Homo sapiens: one gene and its partners. The protein of the gene in region 1 purifies or fractionates together with the protein of each later gene. This does not show direct contact. Each region holds a gene or a part of one and is shown in the gene's direction. Other genes may lie near its edges.

What was found.
Region 2: the proteins of NRROS (region 1) and CNPY3 purify together in Homo sapiens (affinity purification with mass spectrometry; 2 studies listed by BioGRID and IntAct, with this or other methods). This does not show direct contact.
Region 3: the proteins of NRROS (region 1) and ALG9 purify together in Homo sapiens (affinity purification with mass spectrometry; 2 studies listed by BioGRID and IntAct, with this or other methods). This does not show direct contact.
Region 4: the proteins of NRROS (region 1) and MARK2 purify together in Homo sapiens (affinity purification with mass spectrometry; 2 studies listed by BioGRID and IntAct, with this or other methods). This does not show direct contact.

What each region holds. Positions count from the first base shown.
Region 1 is NC_000003.12:196,642,689-196,649,712, forward strand, and holds part of NRROS (transforming growth factor beta activator LRRC33 precursor), read left to right. Parts: intron 1-7,024. UniProt on the Homo sapiens protein: Key regulator of transforming growth factor beta-1 (TGFB1) specifically required for microglia function in the nervous system.
Region 2 is NC_000006.12:42,932,479-42,939,502, forward strand, and holds the end of CNPY3 (protein canopy homolog 3 isoform 1 precursor), read left to right. Parts: intron 1-1,899; exon of another isoform or gene 1,900-1,996; coding exon 1,997-2,120; intron 2,121-2,933; coding exon of another isoform or gene 2,934-2,995; intron 2,996-3,058; coding exon of another isoform or gene 3,059-3,095; coding exon 3,096-3,192; coding exon of another isoform or gene 3,193-3,276; exon of another isoform or gene 3,277-3,887; intron 3,888-5,238; coding exon 5,239-5,361; intron 5,362-5,611; coding exon 5,612-5,729; intron 5,730-6,089; coding exon 6,090-6,313; 3' UTR 6,314-6,816; downstream 6,817-7,024. UniProt on the Homo sapiens protein: Toll-like receptor (TLR)-specific co-chaperone for HSP90B1. Required for proper TLR folding, except that of TLR3, and hence controls TLR exit from the endoplasmic reticulum. Consequently, required for both innate and adaptive immune responses.
Region 3 is NC_000011.10:111,861,577-111,868,600, reverse strand, and holds part of ALG9 (alpha-1,2-mannosyltransferase ALG9), read left to right. Parts: intron 1-3,349; coding exon 3,350-3,420; intron 3,421-3,902; exon of another isoform or gene 3,903-4,408; intron 4,409-7,024. UniProt on the Homo sapiens protein: Mannosyltransferase that operates in the biosynthetic pathway of dolichol-linked oligosaccharides, the glycan precursors employed in protein asparagine (N)-glycosylation.
Region 4 is NC_000011.10:63,898,086-63,905,109, forward strand, and holds part of MARK2 (serine/threonine-protein kinase MARK2), read left to right. Parts: intron 1-146; coding exon 147-195; intron 196-522; coding exon 523-588; intron 589-677; coding exon 678-748; intron 749-966; coding exon 967-1,023; intron 1,024-1,788; coding exon 1,789-2,025; intron 2,026-2,473; coding exon 2,474-2,593; intron 2,594-2,694; coding exon 2,695-2,794; intron 2,795-2,871; coding exon 2,872-2,984; intron 2,985-4,112; coding exon 4,113-4,245; intron 4,246-4,515; coding exon 4,516-4,697; intron 4,698-4,975; coding exon 4,976-5,073; intron 5,074-5,900; coding exon 5,901-6,062; intron 6,063-6,700; coding exon 6,701-6,958; intron 6,959-7,024. UniProt on the Homo sapiens protein: Serine/threonine-protein kinase. Involved in cell polarity and microtubule dynamics regulation. Phosphorylates CRTC2/TORC2, DCX, HDAC7, KIF13B, MAP2, MAP4 and RAB11FIP2. Phosphorylates the microtubule-associated protein MAPT/TAU.

The sequences.
Region 1 (7,024 bases):
ACAGACTTTTGAAGAAAGGAAGGGGGTTGGTTGCACAGCCGCGTAAGGGTACTTAACACTACTGAATTGTACACCTAAAAATGGTTAAGATGGTCACTTTCGGCCGGGCGCGGTGGCTCATCCCTGTAATCCCAGCACTTTGGGAGGCCGAGGCGGGTGGATCAGGAGGTCAGGAGTTTGAGACCAGCCTGGCCAAAATGGTGAAACCCCGTCACTACTAAAAATACAAAAATTAGCTGGGTGTGGTGGTGAGTCCCTGTAATCCCAGCTACTCAGGAGGCTGAGGCAGGAGAGTCGCTTGAACCTTGGAGGCGGAGGTTGCAGTGAGCCGAGATGATTGTGCCATTGCACTCCAGCCTGAGCCACAAGAGCAAAATTCTGTCTCAAAAAAAAAAAAAAAAAGATAATCGCTTTCATGTTTTGTGTATTTTACTACAATTAAACATTTTCTAAAGAAAAAAAGGAAAGAAAGGGGGTGATTTTCTCAAAGGGGAATTGAGGGGTTGTTACCAGAAGGAGAAACGAATGTGAGTGAGTAGGCGAAACCAACCAATTTCCAGAGCGAACGGAGTCAGGTGCTGACCCCAAGCCAATGTGTCTTTTCTCACTTTAATGCCTGAGGGATTTCAGAGTGAACAGAGTGAAGAAAGGAGGAAGTGGAACCTCGTCATGGTCCTCACCCACGAGGTGGGCGCGAGGAGCAGGCTGGTACTGGATAGGCTCAATGTGGCCACAAAGCCTGGTGAGGTCACAGGGACTCCCCTCCTCCAGCCCCAACCCAAAAGGTTGCCTAAGGCAGGTGCTGCGCCATGTGCACCAAGCAACTTTCTGCTGCCACCTCCAAGAAAGAGAAGGACCGGGAGGGGATTTCTCCCAGGAGAGAGAGCACATAACGCTCCGTCTTTTCACCTGTCTGTTCTCAAGCAGGACCTAAGTGTCTAAGGCAACCCCACACCCACAGTGCCTGGCAGGGGCCCACCCATGGGTACACATCGTGTTCTCCTAAGCTCATGTCACTCCATTTCAGATGTCAACTGGACATGGACTCCTGCTGATCCTCCCTACTGTCATTCACTCCTCTCCTGCTCCAGCCCTGATCCCTGAGGTCTCTTCTACCCTTGCAGTGTCTCCCCTCTGTGGTCCTCAGGCACCAAGGCTGAGCCCTTTCCCTCGGCCCTGCAGTGTCTCCCCTCTGTGGTCGTCAGACACCAAGGCTGAGCCTTTTCCCTTGGCCCTGCAGGCTCAGTGGGGAGCAGGGCTTTCCCTGCCTGGCCCTGGACCACCTCCTTCAACTTCAGCAAGTTAGCGGTCTCCCTGTCACCAGCCAGCCTGACACCCTGAGACCTCCTCATGGGCCTCGGCCGTTCTCTTGTTCTAGGTTATTGGGCCCTTCCTCAGGTCCTTAAACTGATGCTTCCATTCAGCTTCTCATCTCCTTCCAAATCCCCAGTTTTCTTCTAGGCTCTCTGGCTAGAGAAGGTTAGAGCCATTTTGAAGGCCTCTGACAGCCCCCGTCTTGCTTTGTCTCCACAGAAGGCCATGGTCCCATGATACACTCAGGGGTGCTGTTCAGAATATCAGGCACCGCATGGCACAGCTACTTGGGAGGCTGAGGCAGGAGAATTGCTTGTACCCTGGAGGCGGAGGTTGCAGTGAGCCAAGGTCACGCCGCTGCACTCTAGCCTGGGTAACAGAGTGAGACCCCGTCTCAAAAAAAAAAAAAAAAGTTAAATCACTTGATATGCATTCTGAAATATTTAAAGGAAAGTATATCAATGACTGCAATGTACTTTGAAATGCACGATCAGGCTGGGTGCAGTGGCTCACACCTGTAATCCCAGCACTTTGGGAGGCCAGGGCGGGAGTTTGAGACCAGTCTGGCCAACATGGTGAAACCCCATCTCTATTAAAAATACAAAAATTACCCGGGTGTGATGGTGATCTGTAGTGATCTGGTGCCTGTGATCCCAGCTACTTGGGAGGCTGAGGCAGGAGAATCTCTTGAACCCCGGAGGCAGAGATCTCAGCGAGCAGAGATCGCACCATTGCACTCCAGTCTGGCGACAGAGTGAGACTCTGTCAAAAAAAAAAAAAAAAAAAAAAGAAAGAAAGAAAGGTGGCATGGGTGGTGCTGTGTGCCTGTAGCCCCAGCTACTCGGTAGCCCTAGGTGGGAGGACTACTTGAGGCTGGGAGCTTGAGGCTGTAGTGTGCTACAATCCCATCTGTGAATAACTACTGCACTCCAGCCTGGGCAACATAGCAAGACCTCTAAAAAAAAAGGAGAAAGAAAGATGGACAGAAGGATAGATAGATGGATAGATGTATGTTGTTGGGGAAAAGTTAAATGACTAACAGTACCTAGTAACTGTTCACATTCCTTGTCATGATCATAAAAATCAAATAATAAGAAATTAGAAAACTTCCATAGGAAATGTAGCTACCTATAATACACTGCCATATGAATTACTGGGTTATTGCTCCACTCAACTTTTAGCTTGTGATGAGGAGGTGATACCAGCACTGAGCCTGCAGGATGAGTAAGAGCTTTGCAGGTGAACAAGACCAGCAAAAGAGCCTTTCCCACAGAGGACAGAGCGTGTGGGCATGCGTGATTTAGTCAAGGGTCGCAGGCATCCCAGGGTGGCTGGGGCTTGTGGTATTGAGGTTGAGCTGATGCAGAAGTCACAGACCTGGGTTTGAATTGTGGCTCTAACATTCTCTAGCTGTACAGCCTAAACCTATGTGAGCCGCCATTGACCAAGTGTGAAATGGAGATGACAACATTTACCTGCTAGGATTTTTGTGGGAATTATATGTAAAGTACCCGGTATAGCCCGTGTTCCAAGGTGAGCACTCAGTAAGCATGAGCTGTCACAGTGAAGAGCCCGGACAGAATCTGGGAGTGATTATGCAGACCTCGAACACCACTGAATTGACCTTTGAATCGGCCTCTTGTCAGGAATCCATATGCTTTCGTTCTTCAATCGTACACTTTCTCAAGGAAACCAAGTAGTCGGGGTGGGGGGATATATTTTCATTGTTTTCCCACTGGGGCCACTAAGCCGCTGTCATCACCCATAAAAAACCCCTGCCCACAGTCTACCGTGGACCCTGGGTGCTCGCTTCTCCCCTGGACATCCCAGGGTCCACACGCTGCAGCTCCCAGGGGTGGGAGAAGGGACGAAAGCTCCTTCTCCTTCACTGTATTTCCCTCAACACCAGCTTGCTGTTTGCACAGAGGAACTCTGCTTTCCCTTTGATTAATACACCTCTTTGTCTCACTATGGAAAGCGTCTGTCCCCCTCCAGTGGGGGCGTGTCCTCCTGCAGGCCTTGGAAGGCTTGGTGGGGTCCCCCGCCCACTAAACGTGAAGTCCGAACATTCCCTTACATCGACAAAGCCTTTTCACACACACTGTCCCATTCAGTCTCGACACAACCCTGTGAGGCCATCAAGGCAAGTGCTGTCCTCCGTGGTCACCACCAGAGTGAAGGAGCCAGGCTTGGGCCCAGGCCTCCTTCCCCAGCCCAGGGTCCCTTCCTCTACACAGGTCCCACCTGCTCCTTCTTATCGAGAAGGGCGGTGGCAGGTAGCCACTCCCTCAGAAGTGACCAGAGGGAACAAACTTGTGATACTGAAGGGAAATCAGATGCTAATGCGTTATGCGGTTGAGCGCCTATCAGCAGAGATTATGTGGGTCTCTCCTATAGAAAGGTGACACCGAGGACCTACCACCAGCCACCACCAGCATGCAAGGGCGAGGTGTCACCTCCCAGTGGGAGCAGGTTTGCATTTATTAAGACCTGTGGCCAGATGGCAGCCTGTGGGCATGGAACAGGACGAGGTGGGCTGACCTCTGATGGCTCTACCAGGCCGACGCTGACCACGTAGGGAAGCCAGTTGGCTTATTCGTGGCCCTAAGGAAGTGAGGGCTGAGCAGGGAGGTGCTCAAAGCGGGCTCCTCACACTGGCTGTCTGGAGTCGCTGTGGGAAGGGCCCAGGGGAAGAAGGGTTGCTGGGGCCTCTGAATCCCCCCCCGATGGAGGCAGAGCCTCATCCATTCCCAGAGAGTCTCTCGCCACGAGCCCCGGTACAGCGCAGGCTGACCAGAGAACCGGAGAACCGGGTGGGAACCGGAGATCTGAGTTGAACCAGTGCTGGGAACCATGGCACTGCCTTCGCCGAGCCGCCGCGTGCCTCTCTTTTCACCTCTCTGGCCTGCATATTCTTTTAGCAAACTTGGGGATTATACTACACATTCTGCTTTACACTTTCCTTTCCTTGATATTATTTTATTATGAACGTCTTTCTGCGTCAATCAATATATTGCTACCAAAGCATTTTTTTATCATACCACGTCATTCCTATCATGTAGTTTTACCATAACTTATTTAGCCAGTGCTTCCATTATTGGACTTTTGATGGTTTCCACTTTTTTATTATTCTTACTAATGTTACAATGAATATTTCTTTTAAAATATTTTTATGTACATTGTATTTCCTTAGGATAAATTCCTAGAACTTGAGTCATTGAATCAAAAAGAATCCAGACTTTCAAGGTCTTTGATAAATTGGCTAAATTGTTCTTCAGAAAAAGTGTGCCAATTTTCTGTTCTACCTGCAGGGTGTGAGACAGTTCTTAGGGGGGGAGAAGTCAAAACAATTGTATTGTCTATATTTTGACAAATTCATTATTAAGAGAAAGCTAGAGAAGCAAATCACAAGCTCTGAATTCACACATCACAATTCTAAATGTTTGTTGTTCTAATCCTCAATTTCAAGTTCTTGTTAATGCATCCACCATTTGAATATTTACTTTTTCAAAATATAGGAATGTGTTAATTTACCAAAGATCACAATCGGTTCTTTGCTTTTTGCTTATTTTTTGAGACAGAGTCCCACTTCGTTGTCCAGGCTGGAGTGCAATGGCATGATCTCGGCTCACTGCAACCTCTGCCTCCCAGGTTCAAATGACACTCTTGGCTCAGCCTCCCGAGTAGCTGGAATTACAGGTGCCTGCCACTATGCTCGGCTAATTTTTGTATTTTTAGTAGAGACGGGGTTTCACCATGTTGGTCAGGCTGGTCTCAAATTCCTGACCTCAGGTGATCTGCTGGCCTTGGCCTCCCAAAGTGCTGGGATTACAAGCGTGAGCCACTGCGCCCAGCCACCTGGCTAATTTTTGTATTTTTAGTAGAGACGGGGTTTCTCTATGTTGGCCAGGCTGGTCTCGAACCCCTGATCTCAGGTGATCCACCCACCTCGGACTCCCAAAGTGCTGGGATTGCAGGTGTGAGCCACTGTGCCCAGCCTGTATTTCCATTTTTAACATAACAAATGTTTCCTGAGCACCTTTCTGAGAAGAGTGTTTGAAAAAGGTATGTTAATGATTCCTGGAAATATGGGGACAGAGATTACCATAATTTAACATCTCTTTTCAGGAACACTTATTTCATTTTCCTCATTTTTAAATGTGAGTACTTTAAAACTTACAGAAAAGTTTACAAGAAAGTACAATACTAAATTTACCGAGTAGTAATATTTTGCTTTACTGTCTCTATTGAGCCATTTGAAGGTAGTTTACATAAATTACGGACATCATGAAAGTTCCCTGTAAGTGCTTCAGCATGCATTTCCTAACAATAGAGGCGATGTCTTACATAACCACAGGCTTGTTATCCGACCTGCAGACCTCATATCATCTGTGCATCTGAAAACTCATCACTTAGTGCCTATTTAAATTTCCCCAATTGTCTCATACTTTTCTGTTAGAGATTCTTTAAAATCCAACATCCGGCCAAGCTCAGTGGCTCACGACTGTAATCCCAGCATTTTGGGAGGCTGAGTTGGGTGGATCACCTGAGGTCGGGAGTTCAAGACCAGCCTGACCAAAATGGAAAAACCCCATCTCTACTAAAAATACAAAATTAGCCAGGCATGCTGGTGCATGCCTGTAATCCCAGCTACTCAGGAGGCTGAGGCAGGAGAATCACTTGAACCCGGGAGGCGGAGGTTGCAATGAGCCGAGATTATGCCATTGCACTCCAGCCTGGGCAACAAGAGTGAAACTCCATCTCAAAAAAAAAAAAAAAAAAAAAAAATTCCAACATCCACTCAAGGTTCATTCACTGCACTTGGTTAAATGCTTCTTAGTCACTTGTAATCTAGAACAGACACCCCCAGCCCCACTCCAGCCTTTCTTTGATTTTCAAGACTGACTCTTGAGAAGTCCAGGCCAGTTACCTTGCAGGACGTCTTACAGCCCAGATCTGTCAGAGGCTTTCCTCATGACTGGATTCAGGGCAAGTGTTTCTGGCAGGCGTTCCACCAGGACAGTACCCTGTTTCCTAAGTCATCACACTCAGAGGCTCAGAATGGCAGGAGCTCTCACCACGGGGGTGTTGAGTTTGGACATTTGGTGAAAGTTGAGGTCATCCTAATGTTTTGCTAAGAATCAGAGGGACCAGAGCTGCTTGCTTGAGACTTCCCAGTGCTTCCTGGAGAAGGGACTGTTGGAAATGGTCACAGACTGGGGGTTGGTTTTGTTCTGTATCATCTGTTCTCAGTGGTCTGTGACCAGCTGCCCTTCCCATTCTCCCAGATCCCAGGTGCAATTGCTCTTTTTCTTGCAGTCAAAGGCAGACTCCCTTTCTTGTGGAGGCCTCCATCCGGCACCGTGTGCCCTTGTGTGTCCATGAGTGTCACTGTCACACATTTACCACTGCACCTGTGCGCACTCTGCCTCTGGAGAGCCCTCCCCCAGACCCAGGGAGAAATATTTGTTTCTCTCTTTTTTTTTTGAGACGGAGTCTCGCTCTGTCGCCCAGGCTGGAGTGCAGTGGCGTGATCTCGGCTCACTGCAAGCTCCACCTCCCGGGTTCACGCCATTCTCCTGCCTCAGCCTCCCGAGTAGCTGGGACTACAGGCGCCCGCCACCGCGCCCGGCTAATTTTTTGTATTTTTAGTAGAGACGGGGTTTCACTGTGTTAGCCAGGATGGTCTCGATCTCCTGACCTCGTGATC
Region 2 (7,024 bases), on another chromosome or scaffold:
TTCTGGGTGGGATCCGCAGAGGAGGTCTTGAAGAGGTAATGTTTGGAAGAGCTGGAAAGCAAGGCTGTGGTTGATGGGTATGAGAGAGAAAGGATGTTCCAAACCTCCCCTTTCCCCACTCCTGGGGAGGGCGTGGGAGGAGGGGCAAGTGGTGCTAGAAAAATGATGTGCCTGCACAGAGTACAGGACAGAAGAGGGGAGGGAGCCCAGATGGTCCTGGATGGAGAGCTGGGGAGGTGAGACATCCCCAGTTCATTGCAGACTTGAAGATCACCAGCTTATTACTTGGAATTTGTATGTGTTTCAAATTCTCCAAGCCATTGATTAATTTCACCAAGCAGGCCTCCAGGGGATGTATTTATTTTTGTGGTAAATTGGTATTCTAGCAGACTGTGCTGTCAGTGTTAAAACTGCTGATGGCATTTAGCCTTCAGACTGGTATTCCATTCAGAGGCATCAGAAGACGGTCTCTATCAACAAGATTTATCGAGCGTCCAGCATATATCAAGTCCCAGGCTAAGGAAATACGAAAAAATCTAATACATAATGCACATTTTGGGGACCCTTGTGGTCTATGTGGAGAGACACATCAAATGACTGAGGGTCCTTAGGGAGAGCATGGATCCTGCAGAGGCCCAGAGTGAAATCTAGAGCAATTGGCATTAGTGCAGAATGGCTTCCTGGGGGAGAGGCTTATAATGCGAGGTGGGCAGGATGGGCAGAGAAGCCCTTAGAAGGCATTAAGTATTTTCCTAGGGCCTCAGGCACTTCACACCCTCGGTGGTAGCACTGTAGCACTCTATACAGTGGTAGTTATTTGTCTACACCTTTATCTGCTGCATTAGACTGAGTATCTGGAAGGGAGGGGACCTTGTTTTCATCTCTGTATCCCCAGGCTGACACGTAGGAGTTGCCTAATACCTATTTGAGGAAGGGTAAGAGGAAATGAGGAAATAAATGTGCGGAGACAGTAGGAACAAGAGCTCTCTGGAGGGCATGGAGCAAATTAACTTGGTAGAAATAGAGCTGATGTTGGAACACATATGAAATCAAGTAATCTAACAACCATAAAAGATGTTTTGGGGACAATTAAGGAAATTTGAATATGGACTACTGGGTGATGTTGGAATTGTTAATTTTCCAAGTATCATAATTGTTCTATGGTTATGTAGGAGGAGGTCTTTTTTCTCAGGAGATACATGATGATATATTTATCTCAAAAGGTCATGTTTGCCACTTACTTTCAAGATGGTGTAGCAAAAGAAATGTATATATTGTTGAGATATTATAATTATATATTGAAGAGAGAATGTGGCAAACTATTAACAACTGTTGAATACAAGTGGAAGGTATTCATTGTGTTCTTTCAGCTTTTCTGTATGTATGCAATTTTAGAAAGTAAAATGATAGACCCTGGCGTGGTGGCTCACGCCTGTAATCCCAGCACTTTGTGAGGCCGAGGTGGGCGGATCGCTTGAGGTCAGGAGTTCAAGACCAGCCTACCCAACAAGATGAAACCTGTCTCTACTAAAAATACAGAATTAGCCGTGCATGGTGGTGCATGCCTGTAATCCCAGCTACTTGGGAGGCTGAGGCAGGAGAATCGCTTGAACCCAGGAGCTGAGATCTCATCATTGTACTCTAGCCTGGGCAACAAGAGCGAAACTCCATCTCAAAAAAAAAAAAGGAATACGAAGAACAATTGCTTAAGGGCAGGATTTACAGTAAGTACATGCTCTTACACAAGAAACAGTAGATAAAATAGAAATCCTAGAGGCATTCCTGAAACTGGGGTTAATCAGAAGTCAACATGGCACATTAGCATCCAAGATGGAGTTGCTTTAGCCTCCACAGGTTCTAACTCCTTCCCTGCCTTGAGTGCTGATTTTGGTCCTCCAGTCTAGGAAAGGATGCCCACCTGGATCTGTTTTGCTGGGAGCTGGCCTCCCATTAGACTCATGTGCACTCAGTGGGCTGTGCTACCTCCCTCCCCCAGTGTGTAAATATGTTGCTGTGGAGCTGAAGTCAGCCTTTGAGGAAACCGGCAAGACCAAGGAGGTGATTGGCACGGGCTATGGCATCCTGGACCAGAAGGCCTCTGGAGTCAAATACACCAAGTCGTAAGTGAATGGGGACTCACTGGCCTGGCCTGCGTTGCTGCTGGAGGCTTCAGGGGTTTGGAGTTCCCTTCTCCTAGCTAGGCAAACCCCCTACAAGGGCATCATTTGTAACCAAGACCTGAGTTTGCCCACTGATTCTGTCCCCAGCTAATTGGGTGACGTGCATAAATCTCTTAACTTCTTTATGCTTCAGCAGATTTCTCATCTCTAAAAGCAAGACTGTTGGACTATATCATTGATTCTCAGACGCTTGGATTTCACAGAGCAATGCAAGTTTTTTTTTGCGACGGAGTTTCACTCTTGTTGCCCAGGCTGGAGTGCAATGGCATGATCTTTGCTCACTGCAACCTCTGCCTCCCGGGTTCAAGAGATTTTCCTGCCTCAGCCTCCCAAGTAGCTGGGATTACAGGCATGTGCCATCACGCCCAGCTAATTTTCTGTATTTTTTTAGTAGAGATGGAGTTTCACCATGTTGGTTAGGCTGGTCTCGAACTCCTGACCTGAGATGATCCGCCTGCCTCGGCCTCCCAAAGTGCTGGGATTACAGGTGTGAGCCACCACACCCGGCCACAGTGCAATTTTTTAAAACATTAGTAACAGGATTACCAGCTTTTTATTTTGCTAGGTACAAATATAGTTTTTAAAAACCCAATTCTGTCAGCTGTGATCATCCTTTCAAAGAGAATGATATTTTACTATCAAAATTTAATAATTTTGCTTTATCAAAAAATCTAAATACTGAATCATTTAGCTTTATAAAAAATTCCTTCCCTTAGAGCTGTTAAAATTTTGTCTCTCTGGTCTGTGTTCCAGCATTTCAGATCCCCCAGACCAGATGACCTATCTTCCTTCCAGCTCTGAGTCACTTCCCATTGGTGAGATGTGCAGGTGTTGGGGCACAGGGCTGGAGGGACAGACCACTAACCCACTGCGGCTAGGAGGGGAACTCAGTTCCTCATCCTCCTGTCTTGGCAGGGACTTGCGGTTAATCGAAGTCACTGAGACCATTTGCAAGAGGCTCCTGGATTATAGCCTGCACAAGGAGAGGACCGGCAGCAATCGATTTGCCAAGGTTGGATTCGGGATTGTCCTTCATCCGCTCTGGGGTCAGGCCTGCATGTATCTTAGTGTGTCTGCTGGTGTGAGTGTGATTTGAAGATGACCACCTGGGATCTTCCTTCATTGCCTCTTCCCATTCTTTGATTGCCGTTTGTGCTCCTCCCCTCTTGAGTGGCCTCATTTTTCAGGCACATGCATGAGGGTCTGGGCCTGTTCATGAGGGTCCTGCTTCAATCTCAGACACAGGCAGAAATGCTCCACAGTTGCTGCCCCCGTGGGAACCTAAAGACACTAGAACGGGGAGAACTCAGCAAGATCCACGATGTGCAGAAAGGTGGGGGTTTAGGCGAGGTGTCAGAGGACACCTCGGTGGGAGTGACTGCCCAGTCCCATCTCTGGGTCCACACAGCACCTCCCACAACCCCGCTGGGATGCCCTTGTGATGGCCCATGTACTCAGTATGTGTACGAGTGCTTTTCTCTCTGGAGAATGAGCTGCTTACAACAAGGCCCATAGTTCTTACTCTCTACATCTTCAGTGCCTGGCACAGGGTAAGATAGTTGCCACCCACATTTTTCTACCTAAGTTTCCTTCTAGCAAAGGATACCATTCATAAACTCCTGGGATACCTAAGGGAATAGTCTCAAGCAGCAGAAATTTGTATGAATTTTGCACTCAGTAATAAATCTGTGTTTGCTTTAATAAAAAGTGTTTAAGAATTATTTTTCATAGCAGGAAAAAAATGAGAAACAATCTAACTCTACCAATAGGGGATTAAATACGTTGATCCAGCCGTTTGGTGGACTAGTATGCGGCTGGAAACGAAGCATGGGGAGGCTCTTTAGGAACTGAATTCAATTGATTTTCAAGGTTTTTGTGTGTTTGTTTGTTTTGGAGACAGAGTCTCACACTCTGTTGCCCAAGCTGGAGCGCAGTGGTGCGATCTCAGTTCATTGCAACCTCCACCTTCCAGATTGAAGCTATTCTCCCACCTCAGCCTCCTGAGTAGCTGGGATTACAGGCACCGACCACCACGCCCGACTAATTTTTGTGTTTTTTAGTAGAAACGGGGTTTCACCATGCTGGCCAGGGGGTCTCGAACTCCTGACCTCAGGTGATCAGCCCACCTTGGCCTCTCAAAGTGCTGGGATTACAGGCATGAGCCACTGCACCCAGCCCTTCAAGGTATAAGTAAAAAGGGCAAGTGCAAAATAGTGTGTATGCTATACCACTGCTTGTGTAAAAAGGCGGGGGGAGGATATATTTAGATATTGGTATTTGTATGAGTTATCTCTGGGAAAATAGAGGAAATGGATAGTATGTTTTCTCTGGGGATAAGACCTAGGCAGCTAGCAGAGATAGTTTTTACAGAATAAAGGGTCTACCTGCCTCAGCTATGCCTTTTTCCCACTGAGGAAAGACACAACCCAGGAAGAACGGAACAGCAGGTCTGGATGATATGGGAGTGTTTCCAGCCATAGTGAGGGGAAAGAGCTAAGACAAACCTATTTCCTGGAAAAGAAGCATAAAGCCAAAGGGCCTGAGGGCAGCCGCAGGTCTTTTTGAAGCGATGAGGTGTGCAGAGGCAGATCAGGGGGTATATGTGCAGGGGTTGTGGGAAGCAGGCCTAAAAGAGGGAAGAGGAAGGTCAGGTCAAGGATGAGGCCAGGTGCGGTGGCTCACGCCTGTAATCTCAGCACTTTGGGAGGCTGAGGTGAGTGGAAAACTTGATGCTAGGAGTTCGAGACCAGCCTGACCAACATGACAAAACCCCAACTCTACAAAAATTAGCCGGGTATGGTGGCACGCCTTTGTAGTCCCAGCTGCTTGGGAGGCTGAAGCAGGAAAATCGCTTGAACCTGGGAGGCAGAGGTTGCAGTGAGCTGAGACGCTCCAACCTGGGCGACAGAGTGAGACTCCTTCTCAAAAAAAAAAGGATGAGGATCCTTAGAGGGCGTTGAGCATTGGTCTTATAGCTGGGTTCTTAGCCACCACTGGGAGACGAGGGTGGGAGGGAGAGAAGGGAGCTCCGCCTGCCATATCTGGTCGCTTCTTCCAGGGCATGTCAGAGACCTTTGAGACATTACACAACCTGGTACACAAAGGGGTCAAGGTGGTGATGGACATCCCCTATGAGCTGTGGAACGAGACTTCTGCAGAGGTGGCTGACCTCAAGAAGCAGGTACAGGCCCTTCAGCCCTTGGAAGGGTTGCTGTGCCCAGTGAGGGGCTGGTGGGGATTGGGTCTGCTCTGAGGAAGTCCACCCAGGCCGGGGTGGCTTTGGTCAGGTCATTTCACCTCTCTGGCCTCAGTTTCCTTAGGTGAACCGCTGCCACTGCCTACCTTGCAGTGGGTTGCGAGGCTTAGCTGAGCTCCTCTAGGAGCGAGTCAGGTGCTGGGGCTTTGCCAATATGAGGTATTATGATTAACAGTGTGATGTGCTGGTGGAAGAGTTTGAGGAGGTGATCGAGGACTGGTACAGGAACCACCAGGAGGAAGACCTGACTGAATTCCTCTGCGCCAACCACGTGCTGAAGGGAAAAGACACCAGTGAGTTTGGGGAAGCAAGGGCAGGCTGGCTCTGGATGATTTGTTTGCTCTCCCTTGGGGGAGGTGGGTAGGAGGAGAAACAGAGGGCACCAGAGGGCATTGTAGGATCTCTGCCCTTGAAAGGCTTGATTGGCAAGACATGGTGAAGTAAGAGTCACTGAAACCAGGTGCAGAATGATGGGCAGACAAGTCAGATGCCCCCAGAGGGGCCTGGTGGCCACAGCGAGAGGCAGGAGGCAGGGAGGCTGATGTCAAGCACAGTCCCAGTTGCTACTCCCACGGCTCCCTGCTCAGTGCTCCTTGCCCAGCACCCCAGCCCTGAGGCACTTCTGTTGAGGGTCTCTCTCCTCCACACCCTAGGTTGCCTGGCAGAGCAGTGGTCCGGCAAGAAGGGAGACACAGCTGCCCTGGGAGGGAAGAAGTCCAAGAAGAAGAGCAGCAGGGCCAAGGCAGCAGGCGGCAGGAGTAGCAGCAGCAAACAAAGGAAGGAGCTGGGTGGCCTTGAGGGAGACCCCAGCCCCGAGGAGGATGAGGGCATCCAGAAGGCATCCCCTCTCACACACAGCCCCCCTGATGAGCTCTGAGCCCACCCAGCATCCTCTGTCCTGAGACCCCTGATTTTGAAGCTGAGGAGTCAGGGGCATGGCTCTGGCAGGCCGGGATGGCCCCGCAGCCTTCAGCCCCTCCTTGCCTTGGCTGTGCCCTCTTCTGCCAAGGAAAGACACAAGCCCCAGGAAGAACTCAGAGCCGTCATGGGTAGCCCACGCCGTCCTTTCCCCTCCCCAAGTGTTTCTCTCCTGACCCAGGGTTCAGGCAGGCCTTGTGGTTTCAGGACTGCAAGGACTCCAGTGTGAACTCAGGAGGGGCAGGTGTCAGAACTGGGCACCAGGACTGGAGCCCCCTCCGGAGACCAAACTCACCATCCCTCAGTCCTCCCCAACAGGGTACTAGGACTGCAGCCCCCTGTAGCTCCTCTCTGCTTACCCCTCCTGTGGACACCTTGCACTCTGCCTGGCCCTTCCCAGAGCCCAAAGAGTAAAAATGTTCTGGTTCTGATTTCTGAGTCCTCTGCAGCCCTCAGAGGTGCCCTGGAGCCTCTTGTTCTTTCCTGCCCCTCGCCTTCCAGCCCGTGGGGCTGAGGAGGGGAAGGCTAAAACCCACCCACTCTCGGGAGCAGCAAGTGCTGGGAAGGCCCAGGGTTGTCTTGGGGTGAGGGGAGGCATGGGCATAGGATGAGGCCCAGGGCAGTGCACTGACCTTACGCTGCTCCCTCGTGTCCTGGACACCTGGCTGCC
Region 3 (7,024 bases), on another chromosome or scaffold:
TAAGGGCAGACCAACCTGGAAGCAATCACAATTGATCAAGAGGTGAGTCTCTGGTATAGTTTTGAGAAAAGGACAAAATGAATTGGAAGTTAAAAGGGAACTTTTTTTGAAGAAGAATCATTTATCCAATTCACCATTCAACAAGCATTAATGAAACAACTTTTATTTGGTAGACACTGTATTAAGTGCTGTGGCTATAACAGTAACCAAGCCCCTGACTTAATGAAACTTGTGGTTTAGTGGAGAAGATGAACATTGAACAAATCATTCTAAATATGGTGGGTCTTATGGAGGAAAAGTACAATGTACGGTGGAATAGCATATTAGGAGGGTCTAATTTAAGTAGAGTGCTGAGAAATAATTAGATGTTAACTGGGACCTAACCTGATTAGTTTTCAGAAATTTGACTATGATGCGTCTTGGTGTGGATTTCTTTGGGTTTGTCCTGTTTGGAGTTTATTCAGCTTCTTGAATCTTTGGGCTTATTCCTTTTGCCAAATTTGGAAAGGTTTTAGTTTTTATTTTTTTGAATACTTTTTCAGCCCTGTCCGGTTTCCTCTTCTTCTGGAACTTTGATGATGTGAATGTCAGATCTTTTGTTATTAGTCCCCCAGGTCTTTGAGACTCTGTTTTCAATTTATTTTCTCTCAATGGTCAGTGGAGGCCTGGTAGGGAACCTCGAGTTCTACCTCCACTTGGCGGTAACAAGGTAGAGACTTCCCACTAACGCTCTTTCCCTGCTGGGTTAGTGGGAAGTAGTATCAAAAGAAGCCAGCTAAAACAGAAAGCTTAAATAAGATCGTAGGAGCACAACAGTGCAAAGAAAGCATGCTGAGCCCATGAATAATCCAGAATCTCATAATGCAATACCTAAAATGTCCAGCTTTCAACTGAAAATGACCTGTCATACCGAGAATCAGGAAGATCTCAAACTGAATGAACTGTTGTTCACATTGAGTAATTTCTTTTCTTCTGTCTTCCACTTCACTGATTCTTTCCTATGTCCCCTCTTCCAATGCTGACCCCGTCCATTGCATTTTTAGTTTGTTCTATGTACTTTTTCAGTTTTAAAATTTCCATTCAGTTTTTCTTTATATCTTCTAATTTTTTTTACTGAGACCTTCTCCTTTTTCATTTGCTTCAAGCATATTCTTAGTTATTCACTGAAATATTTTTACAAAGCCCGCTTTAAATTTTGTTAGATAATTCTGACACCTCTGTCATCTTGGTGTTGGAATCTATCGATGGACTGTTTTCATTCAGTTTGAGATTTCTACAAGACCTGGTAGGATCTATTAAGGTATTAGACTGTTGTTCTTTTCCCCCCAAGTCTGTTATGTAAAGCCACTGCAAGGTTTTCAGACAAAAGAGAGGTATGATTGCATTTACATTTTAGAATGATCAGAAAGGTGGCACCTGCAGAAAGTGACAAAATACTGTCCCTCCCTTCCCTATCCGGTATCTCATTTCCATTTTTTTGTTTGTTTGTTTGTTTGGTTTGTTTTTGAGACGAAGTCTCACTCTGTCGCCCAGGCTGGAGTGCAGTGATGTGATCTCGGCTCACAGCAACCTCCGTTTCCCGGATTCAAGTGATTCTCCTGCCTCAGCCTCCTGAGTGGCTGGGATTACAAGCTTGAGCCCCCACGTGTGGCTAATTTTTTTGTATTTTTAGTAGAGACAGGGTTTCACCATGTTGGCCAGTCTGGTCTCAAACTCCTGACCTCAAGTGATCCACCTGCCTTGGCCTCCAAAGTGCTGGGATTACGGGCGTGAGCCACTGCACCTGGCCTCATTTCTGGTTTTTTTTTTTGAACTTGTCAAAGGAAAGATAATAAAGGGTGAAGGGCTCAGCAGAAAACTAACAATGTGCTATGCAGAGGGTTTTTATTTCCATTTGGCTATCTAGTATCACTTCAAATTTTACATGTTCAACACAGAATTCTTCCTCTTCTCTAATCCTGTTACATCACTGATGTGCACAGCAAGTGAAATGGAAAGCAAGATTTCTCTTCTTCTCTTGTTCTTACTTCTGATCTCCTTTTTCCTAGCCATTCAGCAAAGGGGAATTGTAGCTTAGAGAGTCTTAGCCCCAGCATCATAACGTTGAGTAGAGAAGGATGGTTGTTTCTGAGAGACAGGGTGGTAACAATTGGCACATCTAGTGATAGCTACCTTCTCAATCTCTTGCTACCCCAAATGAAAGCACCTTTGTATTATCTCTTCATGGACCTGTTCGTGAATTTCTCTGAAGTGTACACTCAGGAGTGAGATCCCACAAGTAGGCCCATTTTTTTTGTTTGTTTTTGAGATGGAGTCTCACTCTGTCGCCAGGCTGGAGTGCAGTGGCACGATCTCGGCTCACTGCAACCTCCGACTCCCAGGTTCAAGTAATTCCCTTGCCTCAGCCTCCCGAGTAGCTGGGGTTACAGTTGCCCGCCACCATGCCTGGCTAATTTTTTTGTATTTTTAGTAGAGATGGGGTTTCACCATGTTGGCCAGGCTGGTCTCGAACTCCTGACCTCAAGTGATCCGCCTGCCTCGGCCTCCCAAAGTGTTGGAATTACAAGTGTGAGCCACCATGCCCGGCCAGTTATACTATATATTAAGTAGTGTTTAAGTTCTGAGAAATTCAGTGCTCTTAACCATATGGTATTCTGTAGTATAAAGCTACTTAATATAACCCCTATTTTATTATTTTTATTTTTTAAATTGATGTCAATTATAAAATTAATAAAGCCACATAACAGAACTTTGGAAGATAGGAGGAAAAATACTCATCTAAATCTACCAGGTTGCTATAGCTACTTTTACCATTTTATTACATTTCTTTCCAGTCTTTCCACATGCATATAGTGTCCATAGCTGTAACTGATGTATAAATAATATTGTACATTTTCTCTTAATATTTTGTCATAATCACTACCTGATATATTATGGTTGTTGAAGAATTGCTTGTTGAATGAGCATTATATTGCAAGAATGTTTTCACTATCTTTGTAAACATAAATTTTAATAGCTGTATAATTGTCCATGAGCTAGATGTAGCCTAGTTTATTTAATCATTTCCCTATAATTGGATATTTTGTAGTTTTTGAAACAGTTTTTACTAAAACTGCAATTAACATTTTCATGAATGGAGCTCTACCTCCCAACCCCCACCAGCTGGAGTGATAGAAGTAGGTATACTGATATTGAGTCAAGGGATATGAAAATTCTTGATCCATGTTGCTTTTCAAAAGAATTATACCAATTTACAGTGTTATTGACAATAAATGAGAGTGGTTCATGTTTATGAGTTTTTCTAGCTCATATCTGTGACTTCTGTTTTCTTTTTCTGGGTTTCTTTTAGATTCTTGTGTTTTACTTTTTGCGATGTCTTCTGGCTTTTGTGAGCTGTATTTGTGAACTTTACTTTTACAAGTGAGTATAAAAACTTTGCTTCTAAAAGTGCTGTGAGGAAACCCATTATTGCATAGATTATCTGTTGTGATAGTCTAGGCAGTGATTAGAAATAGAAAACTCTTGACCGGGTGCGGTGGCTCACACCTGTAATCCCAGCACTTTGGGAGGCCAAGGCGGGCAGATCACCTGAGGTAGAGAGTTTGAGACCAGCCTGACCAACATGGAGAAACCCCATCTCTACTAAAAATACAAAATTAGCCGGTTGTGGTGGTGCATGCCTGTAATCCCAGCTACTCGGGAGGCTGAGGCAGGAGAGTCACTTGAACTTGGGAGGTGGAGGTTGTGGTGAGCTGAGATTGTGCCATTGCACTCCAGCCTGGGCGATAAGAGCAAAACTCCATCTCAAAAAAAAAAGAGAAAGAAGTAGAAAACACTTTCCTCCTAGCTCCTGATATATATATCATATACATATTTTTTTTTCTGGGAAAGAAAACTTTTTTTTTCATACTGAGTTTTATTGTATGCTGCTGCCAGTGTGGATAAAACAGTTACCCTTGTGAAATAGAAATTCATGAAATTCAGAGAGGTAGATGTTAAAGACTGATGAAACTAGAAGTTCGTATATTACAGCACATGTGCTACAGGGATAAGCTTTTGTACAGGCTTCAAATTTAGCTCTCTTTTGAATATCCACTGGATCATAAGAAGTGGTTTGGGAAACTTTTGAAATTCATTTTACTACAAAAAAGAACAGATTTTCTGGGGTCTGAAGGGATTTGTACTTGAAGATACTCTAGTCAGCAGAGGGTCATGTTGAACATTCTGCAGACAGAATTGTTTGAAGTCTGCAGCTGCCTGGGAAACTTTTATGCAGTTGAGCCTGGCCTCCAGCCGGGGCTGTTGAACCACTTTCTTCATAGCGGCAACGCTGGAGGAGCCAGACATGGTGCACGTGAGGGCCGGGCCAGTTCGTGGGTTGGTGGGTCGTGGGTCAGCGGGGCCTGACTGAAAACTTCTTGCTTTTATTTATTGTTCTCTTCTTTTTCTTTTTTTAATTTTTATTTTTCAATAGTTTTTGGGGTACAGGTGGGTTTTGGTTACATGGATAAGTTCTTTAGTGGTGATTTCTGAGATTTTGATGCACCCATCACCTGTAGCTCCTGATATTAAATCTGAAGTGTGACTTCTCGTTTGAAACCAACAGTTGAAGGGAACACTGTACTTCTAATTATCGTTTTCTTTCCTGAGGTCATAAATACCATATCCTTATATCATTCATTTTAATTCTGTTAAAAACTATCTAACTGGTCTTTACTTGATAGGATTTAGTAGAACCCTATTTTCGGTCCTAAGATACAGGATCATGATTTGCCTCTGCCCTACAGCTTAGTTGATAATAAACTACTCCCGGTGTGGGATATCACTGCTCTTGTTTGCACCCAATATATTGTCTTTCACAAAGTACCTATTAGTTGATTGAATATTAGTTGGGACTATTAAGCATTTAAGTGTCCCGGTAATAAATATAGCCACCTTTTTTACATGATAACTAACAAACGTCTTGTTTTAATAATGCTTTAGTAATATATTTAAAGGTATTTGGACTTAGTGATCATTATTTAAAATCTTCCCACAGCTAAAAATGTCAGATTTTAAAAAATGTTTGGCCTTGACTGTGAGTGGAGTGGAGGGAAAAAAAGTAAAGCTAGTGCTGCCTTTGAGGATTGTAACCGTAAATTCCGTAAATTGGTCTTTATATGGGTTTGGGCCTGAATTCAGATCACCTATGTGGTCCTTCAAGCCCTAAGCTGAGAATTTACTTTAATATATTTTATTTATTTTATTTTATTTTTGAGACTGTCACCCAGGCTGGAGTGCAGTGGCATGATTTCGGCTCACTGCAACCTCAGCCTCCCGGGTTCAAGCAATTCTGCCATCTCAGTCTCCTGAGTAGCTGGGATTACAGGTGCAAACCACCACGCCTGGCTAATTTTTTGTACCTTTAGTAGAGATGGGGTTTCACCGTGTCTTGGTCTCCTGACTTCGTGATCTGCCCGCCTCGGCCTCCCAAAGTGCTGGGATTACAGGTGTGAGCCACCAGGCCCAGCCGAGAATTTATTTTAAATTGTTCTGGGTTGGTAGTGCCCGTGGCATCTGGCAAAAAATTTCTCTAGAGAAATGGACCCTTAACCCAAGTGTCTGAAAATTACCAGAGATAAAGTTCTAGTGAACAAGAAATTATAATAAAAATAAATCAGAGCACAGAGGGAGCAAAACATTATGGGTGAGAATCAGCAGAAATAACAGTCAACAGAACGTTCACCTGAAAAACTTCATTTATTGGGAAATAGGAATATAATGTAAGTATATTTAACATTTTCAAACAAGTAAAAGAACCAAAAACATGAACAAGAAACAAGAGATGACCAAATAAATTTAAAAAATTCAGAACTTATAAGAATCATATAATATGTAATATTATATAATATGAATAATATGTATATAATATTTATATTTAAGACTCAGTAGATAAACAGCAGATTAGACATTCTGATGAGTAAACTAGTAAATTGGAAGATTGATTTAAATAAATTACTCAAAATGCAGTACAGACAGACCAAAAAAAAAAGGTAATATAGAAAAGGTTAAGAAATGTGTAAGCCACGGCTGGGCACGGTGTTTTATGCCTGTAATCCCAGCACTTAGGGAGGCCGAGGCAGGTGGATCACTTGAGGTCAGGAGTTCGAAACCAGCCTGGCCAACATGGCGAAACCTCATCTCTACTAAAAATACAAAAATTAGCCAGGTGTGGTGGCACATGCCTATAGCCCCAGCTACTTGGGTGGTAGAGGCACGAGAATCACTTGAACTCAAGAGACGGAAATTGCAGTGAGCCAAGATCACCCCATTGCACTCCAGCCTGGGCAAGTGAGACTCTCTCTAAAAAAAAAAAAAAAAAGAAAAAAAAGAAACATGTAAGCCAGAGTTGAAAGAACTGACATACATCTAATCAGATTGTAGAAGGAGATGATAGAATGCGGAGAGGCAATATTCGGGGTATTAATAGCTGAGAATTTTCTAGAAATGATGGGAAAAAAAGATGCTAATCCATGGATTTAGTAAACCTAACATATCCCAAGCTAGATACATAAAAAATTAGTGTAGTGAAACTGTGTAAGACAATAGAGACAAAGAGAAAGATTTTAAAAATTGTCAGAGAACTAATAGAATACCTGCAAAGGAGTGTTAGGCAATTACACTGACAGAAGACTTTTTAACAGCCAGAAGACCAAAAAAGAATATCTTCAAAGTCCTGAGAGAAAATAACTTTCATCCTAAAATTGTATATTAGGTTAAGCCATCTTTTAAGACCAAGAGCTAAATACAGACTTTTCAGTTTAAAAAAAAAAGAGAAAGGGAAAAAAAAAGGAAGAAGCCTGTAATCCCAGTGCTTTGGGAGACTTAGGCAGGAGGATCATTGAGGATTGCTTGAGCTCAGGAATTTGAGATCAGCCTGGGCAACATAGCAAGACCTCATCTCTACAAAAAATTAGCTGGATGTGATGGCACATGCCTGTAGTCACAGTTACTCCTAGCCATTCAGGAGGCTGAGGCAGGAGGT
Region 4 (7,024 bases), on another chromosome or scaffold:
CCGTGCATGAGCTAGACAACCACCCTATTTTCTTTTCCCTGCCCGGTTTTGGTTTTTTGGGAAAAACAAATCCTGGCAGGGACTGTTTGGAGAGACCTGATGGGAGCAAGTTGGGCAGGCATGACCCCTGGTATTTTATCTTCCAGCTATTCCGCGAAGTAAGAATAATGAAGGTTTTGAATCATCCCAACATAGGTGAGCACAAGTTGTTATTTCTTTCTTCTTCCCCAACAGCAAGGCACTGCTTTCCAGCATGTCATCTTCTCCCCGAGGTGCACTGCCTTCTGGAGTCTGCAGTCTTCAAGGATACCCCTGGGGAAGCTCAGCTCAAAATCCATCTCCCCTTCTGGCACACTGGGCTGTCTTTAGCAGTTTGGCTGGCATGAGAGGAACTTGTTCTTGGGAGTGGGGGATCATGAAAGGAGGGGAGACTTTCGTTCCTAGGATGCTCCTGGACATGTTGGAGAGCAGTATGTGGCCCCTGTTGCTTCTTGACTTAAGGCTTGGCCTTTTCTCTTGTAGTTAAATTATTTGAAGTGATTGAGACTGAGAAAACGCTCTACCTTGTCATGGAGTACGCTAGTGGCGGTAGGTGTGGAACTGCCTCTTCCTGTTGTGCCCCCACTTCTTCCACCTCCAGCCAGCTCTGACTGAGATCCCTGCCTGGTCTCTTACAGGAGAGGTATTTGATTACCTAGTGGCTCATGGCAGGATGAAAGAAAAAGAGGCTCGAGCCAAATTCCGCCAGGTAGGTGTGACTCCCTCCATAGGAGCTAGGCCTGACCTCTGCTTTTGGGGTTTGACATGTAAGGATAAGCTGCCTGTCTGTAAGTGGCCCTTGGAGGGTACTTTGGGCTCTGCTTATCCGTGTGGCAGGTTAGCACTAAGTCACAGGGTCACTGCTCTGTCAGCCCCTGTGGCCCACCCTCAGGCACCCCTGGGTTAACCCTTCTTCCTTCCTTTCAGATAGTGTCTGCTGTGCAGTACTGTCACCAGAAGTTTATTGTCCATAGAGACTTAAAGGTAAGGCATGCACTTCTCCTTGTGCCTTTGAGTGGGAGCCAGGTTGTTGCCTCTTGGTTCTCCATGATAAAACCATCAATAACCATCAGGCCCTGAGTGTTCCAGGAAACTCCAGCCTTTCTTTTTTTCTTTCTTTCTTTCTTTTTTTTTTTTTGAGATGACCAGAAAGCCCCTAGGGCTGCCTCTGATAGAGGCCTTGTGGCTGGACCTCGGGTTCCATTCTAGCCCTTGAGCAGGGGCCCTCTGCCATTTCACCTCTTGGCACATCACCTTTTAGTGCTGCCAAGCAAGGCAGGCACACTCCAGGCTTTCTCAGTCTTTCAGGCAACCTGGTAGCTGACCCAGGGAAGAGTGCTGAAAGTTCCACAGCTGTATCCCAGCTGCTTTGCAGGCAGGCACACACATACCATCTCCATCACCAAGATACTCAAGTTTGAGGACACCTGTGGGTCTCTTGGCTGCTGAGTCCTCACAGACATGATTTGATTAACCTGGGCCTGATGCTGAAGCTTTGCACAGCTCACAGGGTCTCTGGGCCTTCAGATCCCATCTCTCCCATGGCTGCCCACGTGAGGAGTGGCCTGCATTGCCTTCCTCCTGCCCAGCCTATTCACGCTGATTGAAGCCCTGCCCTGAAATTGGTGGAGAAAGTTCTGAGACTGAAGATGACTTTCCGTTTGTTCTCCCATTCCCCTCAGCTCCTTCCTGCCCAGGGCCTTAGTCTGGTCCACTTGGTTCCCTGATGTTTTCCATCTTACCTCCCAGGCAGAAAACCTGCTCTTGGATGCTGATATGAACATCAAGATTGCAGACTTTGGCTTCAGCAATGAATTCACCTTTGGGAACAAGCTGGACACCTTCTGTGGCAGTCCCCCTTATGCTGCCCCAGAACTCTTCCAGGGCAAAAAATATGATGGACCCGAGGTGGATGTGTGGAGCCTAGGAGTTATCCTCTATACACTGGTCAGCGGATCCCTGCCTTTTGATGGACAGAACCTCAAGGTGGAGTGAAGTGCAAGCTTTTTATTGCTTCTCATTTCCTCTCGGCCTCTGGTCTTAGCCCTGACCTCCTGCCTTTGCCACCTGTCTACATTTGTCCCAAGCCAAAGCTTCAGAGAAGGGCTTGCTGAGGTAGCAGCAGTCAAAGGCCTTCTGCACCTGGGAATGAATAACCTCAGTTCCTTTCTCGAAAGATGGGATAAACTGTGTGTGTGTTCATCCCCCAAGGCACTCCGGATTGCAGGCCTCGGACTGGTCAAGTTAGAGGGTACGAGGGTATTTGACTTCACTTGCCTCTCTGGTGAGGTGTCTTGTCCCCAGGCTGTCTGCCTTCTTCCATATTTCATTTATGTCTGCTTTGCCAGGCTTAAGCTCTCAGGATCTTGGATATTAGGTTTCTTCCTTTGGCCTTGGGGTGATTTCAATTTTCTAACCCTGGATCCTCCTGCAGGAGCTGCGGGAACGGGTACTGAGGGGAAAATACCGTATTCCATTCTACATGTCCACGGACTGTGAAAACCTGCTTAAGAAATTTCTCATTCTTAATCCCAGCAAGAGAGGCACTTTAGAGGTGAGCAGTGGAGCCCAACTGGCGGAAGGGCCTGGGGTCCCCACAGAAACTTTCCAGCTGAGTTTCTTCCCCCTGCCCTTTTCCTTCTCTGTGCTCCCCAGCAAATCATGAAAGATCGATGGATGAATGTGGGTCACGAAGATGATGAACTAAAGCCTTACGTGGAGCCACTCCCTGACTACAAGGACCCCCGGCGGACAGGTGAGGCTGTGCCGGGCTGTGAGGTTAAGCTTGCCTAGGAGTTGAGGCCAGTCTTAACTGTATGTCCCCCTGTGCAGAGCTGATGGTGTCCATGGGTTATACACGGGAAGAGATCCAGGACTCGCTGGTGGGCCAGAGATACAACGAGGTGATGGCCACCTATCTGCTCCTGGGCTACAAGAGCTCCGAGGTGTGTGCTCCCCGCCCCATTCTCTGACCTGGCCAGCCTCACTGTCTGTAGCACCTATGCTTCTAACACCTGTTGAGGGCAGAAGCTCATCTCTGAGTAGGTGTGCTCTCTGCTCACCAATTTTAAGCCTCAGCTTTGGTGTCTAAGGTCCTCTGGCCCATTCACTGATCTCCATGAGTGAATTAATAGAAAGCTGGTAGGGTCGGTGTGGGACTGGGTCAGAGTTTCAATACGGGTGAGTTGATCTAGGTTAGTCTGCATTGATTAGATGTGTCTAGGTCATCGGCTAGCACTACTACATTGATCTAGATATCTTTGTGTCTCTTTTTGTATCTGGAAGTGTACATTTCTGGGTGTGTGTGTGTGTCTCTGTGTGTGTCTGATCGGAAGTTTGAGTCTGTTGCTTTTTTTTTTTTTTTTTTTTTTGAGACGGAATTTCGCTCTTGTTGCCCAGGCTGGAGTGCAATGGCAGGATCTTGGCTCACTGCAACCTCCGCCTCCCGGGTTCAAGCGATTCTCCTGCCTCAGCCTCCCAAGTAGCTGGGATTACAGGCATGTGCCACCATACCCGGCTATTGAGTCTGTTGCTTCTGTCTAGTGCTTTATGTTTGGGTGTGTGTATCTGTGTGTGTGTGTGTGTGTGTGTGTGTGTGTATGTGTCCGTCTTCCCGTCTGTGGATCTGGAGACTTTGTGATTGTTCTTCTGCCCATTTGGGTTTTGTTCATCATCTGAGTATCCCCACATGAACTCCCAGCCTCCCTGCCCTGCTCTCCCTCTGGTGGTGGGATCCTTAAGAGGCACCTGGTGACACTTGGTATAGGCCCATATTGCTCTGTGTTGAGGGGAGTGGACTTGAGTCTGGACATGTGTTCTTGCGGATGTTTGTGTCTCTGGGTGTGTGGGCTTATGTATTCCTTTCTGAGACTGTGTTTGTCAGTGTCTGTGTCAGAGCATGTGTGTCTCCAGGGTCTCCTCCAGGGGGGATGTATTGGTCTTACAAGTGGATGTCCGGTATGATCCTGGGGTGTTTGAGTGTTGGGAGAGGGCGGTATGTGTAAATGTGTCCATCCATAGGGATCTCCACATGACTTCTGCCCTCCCTTGAAGCTGTTTTCTGTTTCTTTCAGCTGGAAGGCGACACCATCACCCTGAAACCCCGGCCTTCAGCTGATCTGACCAATAGCAGCGCCCCATCCCCATCCCACAAGGTACAGCGCAGCGTGTCGGCCAATCCCAAGCAGCGGCGCTTCAGCGACCAGGGTAAATGCTTTTGGGAGTTGTAGGTGGGGACTCACCCCTCTCCAGAGAGGTTACAGGTTCTGTGGGGACTTGGGTAACACAACTAAGTTTCAGTCCTGGTTCAGCCACTTATTAGTAGTGTGGCTATGGGCAAGCCACTTCCCTTCCCTCGCCTCTGTGGAATGGGGGCTTGCTGGGTTGTTGGCCAGCCCTGTAGGAAATGAGCATGCGTGGGGCTGGCACTCAGTGGACCCCTTGGCCTTACCCATTCCCATCCTCCCTCTGGCCCAGCAGCTGGTCCTGCCATTCCCACCTCTAATTCTTACTCTAAGAAGACTCAGAGTAACAACGCAGAAAATAAGCGGCCTGAGGAGGACCGGGAGTCAGGGCGGAAAGCCAGCAGCACAGCCAAGGTGCCTGCCAGCCCCCTGCCCGGTCTGGAGAGGAAGAAGACCACCCCAACCCCCTCCACGGTGAGCCGCACCCCCCGCTCTCTCCTTCCTTCCTGCGGTGGGGCCTGCCCTCTCCAGGCAGCTCTTCTCTTAATTCAGACTCTGTTCCCTTTGGCTACTACTTCTGCTTATAGCAGGAAGCCTCGCTCCCAGCAGTAAATGCAGAATCCTTTCCTTAACCTACCACTGTCTGCTTCAGGTGGAAGGGACAGGAAGCCTGTTCCATGAACCTGGGGGGAGAACCTGGCTGTAGACCACTTTGGCTTTCTGATAGAACGCTTGCCCTTTATTCCCCACAGAACAGCGTCCTCTCCACCAGCACAAATCGAAGCAGGAATTCCCCACTTTTGGAGCGGGCCAGCCTCGGCCAGGCCTCCATCCAGAATGGCAAAGACAGGTGAGAGACCCGGGCCCTGCCTGCCTCACTCCCTAGGAGCCATGTCTCACAGGGTGATGTCTGTCAGCAGCACCGTCTCCTGTCCCTGCCAGCGCATTGCTCCCTGCTCCCTGGAGTTCCATCCTGGCTGTGTCCAGTCCAGCTTTCCCCTCCCCTATTCCACGCCATTGCCTCCTCCCCATCTTCCTCTGACTGCTACTTGCAGTTTGCCAAGTGTGGGGCTGACCGTGGCCATCTCAGCTACATGCTCGCTTCTTGACCACGGCCAGGGCATGGCAGCTGCCCTCCTCTAGACATGAGCAGCTAAGGCCTTGTGTTGGGGGTCCCAGCTCAGGGCAGAACCAAGAGATGCCCACCTTGAGGGGTGTACACATAGAGGGCGACTCCAGCCATCCCCATGAGACCAGAGCTCCCCAGCCTTCACCGGCCGCATTTCTTGGTGTTGCATTCCTGGCTCTATCTCTTCTGAGTTTATGAAAGTTTCCCCTCAGCAACACCCCACTCTTTCTGTAGAAGAAACTCTCCTGTTCTTAAAATTCTTAGGAGGCCAGTGCAGCCTGGAGGCAGCGGCCCCTTGTCTGCTCTCCTTCATTTCTGATTCCTCTTCCCAGGCACTGACCCACCTCGCTGCTTCCCGACCTCACTCACCTCCACTTCTCAGCCCCGCATTCCTCAGTTCTGACTTGCATCCCGCTGCTGCCCAGGCCTGACTTCTACCCTGCCAGAGCTCCCCAGCTCTGGCCCTTCCCCTGCCCTTGCTTCCTAATCCAGGCCTCCCGCCCTCACTCACCCCTAACACGGGCCTCTCCGCTGCTTTTGTTTCCTAGCCTAACCATGCCAGGGTCCCGGGCCTCCACGGCTTCTGCTTCTGCCGCAGTCTCTGCGGCCCGGCCCCGCCAGCACCAGAAATCCATGTCGGCCTCCGTGCACCCCAACAAGGCCTCTGGGCTGCCCCCCACGGAGAGTAACTGTGAGGTGCCGCGGCCCAGGCAAGTGTGCTGGGGCAGCTGGTGCACCTGCTGCCCTCAGCCCACCCTACCCCCTTGCCCCAACAATTTCTTCTTCCCACTTGGGGGTCCTGCTGTGTTCTTGTCATCTTAGCCACAAGAAATGGGTCTGTCCCCTGCGGCCAGGAAGTGGAGGGAACAAAAAAGAGCATTAATGCCCCTCTTTTCCAGTTCTCCCTCTCAGAACAGGTATGCAGGAAGCTGTCCTAAGGCTCCAAAGGGAAACCTTTTTGTTCTGAACCTTCCAGGGTTTCCTTAGGGACCCCGGGGATAGTCGGCATCACAGGGACTCAATCCTCAAGGGTTGGTCCCCATTGCCGCCTTGAGGGTCCAGTCTGCCCGGCTCCCAGGGAGCCCGCTGTCTCCAGCCTAAACCACACTCCACACAGGGGTCCTTCCTTGCCTCCCTCCCTCCCTTCCCAAACCATCTCCTTCCACTTCCACGAGACTTCCTTCTCACCACTGTCCTCAGTAGTCACACCCTTCCTTCTGTGTCCTCGTGATGGCTGCCTCTGCCCTAGCATCCCCCTCCCTGTCCCCACCACAGGGTGTCCAGGTGCCCAGTGATGGCTGTCCTGTACCCTAATTCGTCCCCCTCAACCCCACTTCTCTTCCCACAGCACAGCCCCCCAGCGTGTCCCTGTTGCCTCCCCATCCGCCCACAACATCAGCAGCAGTGGTGGAGCCCCAGACCGAACTAACTTCCCCCGGGGTGTGTCCAGCCGAAGCACCTTCCATGCTGGGCAGCTCCGACAGGTGCGGGACCAGCAGAATTTGCCCTACGGTGTGACCCCAGCCTCTCCCTCTGGCCACAGCCAGGGCCGGCGGGGGGCCTCTGGGAGCATCTTCAGCAAGTTCACCTCCAAGTTTGTACGCAGGTAAGCAAGGAGCTTTGGGTGGCAGAGAGGCTCAGGCCAGGCCTTCCTGCTTTACTCGGGGTGGGT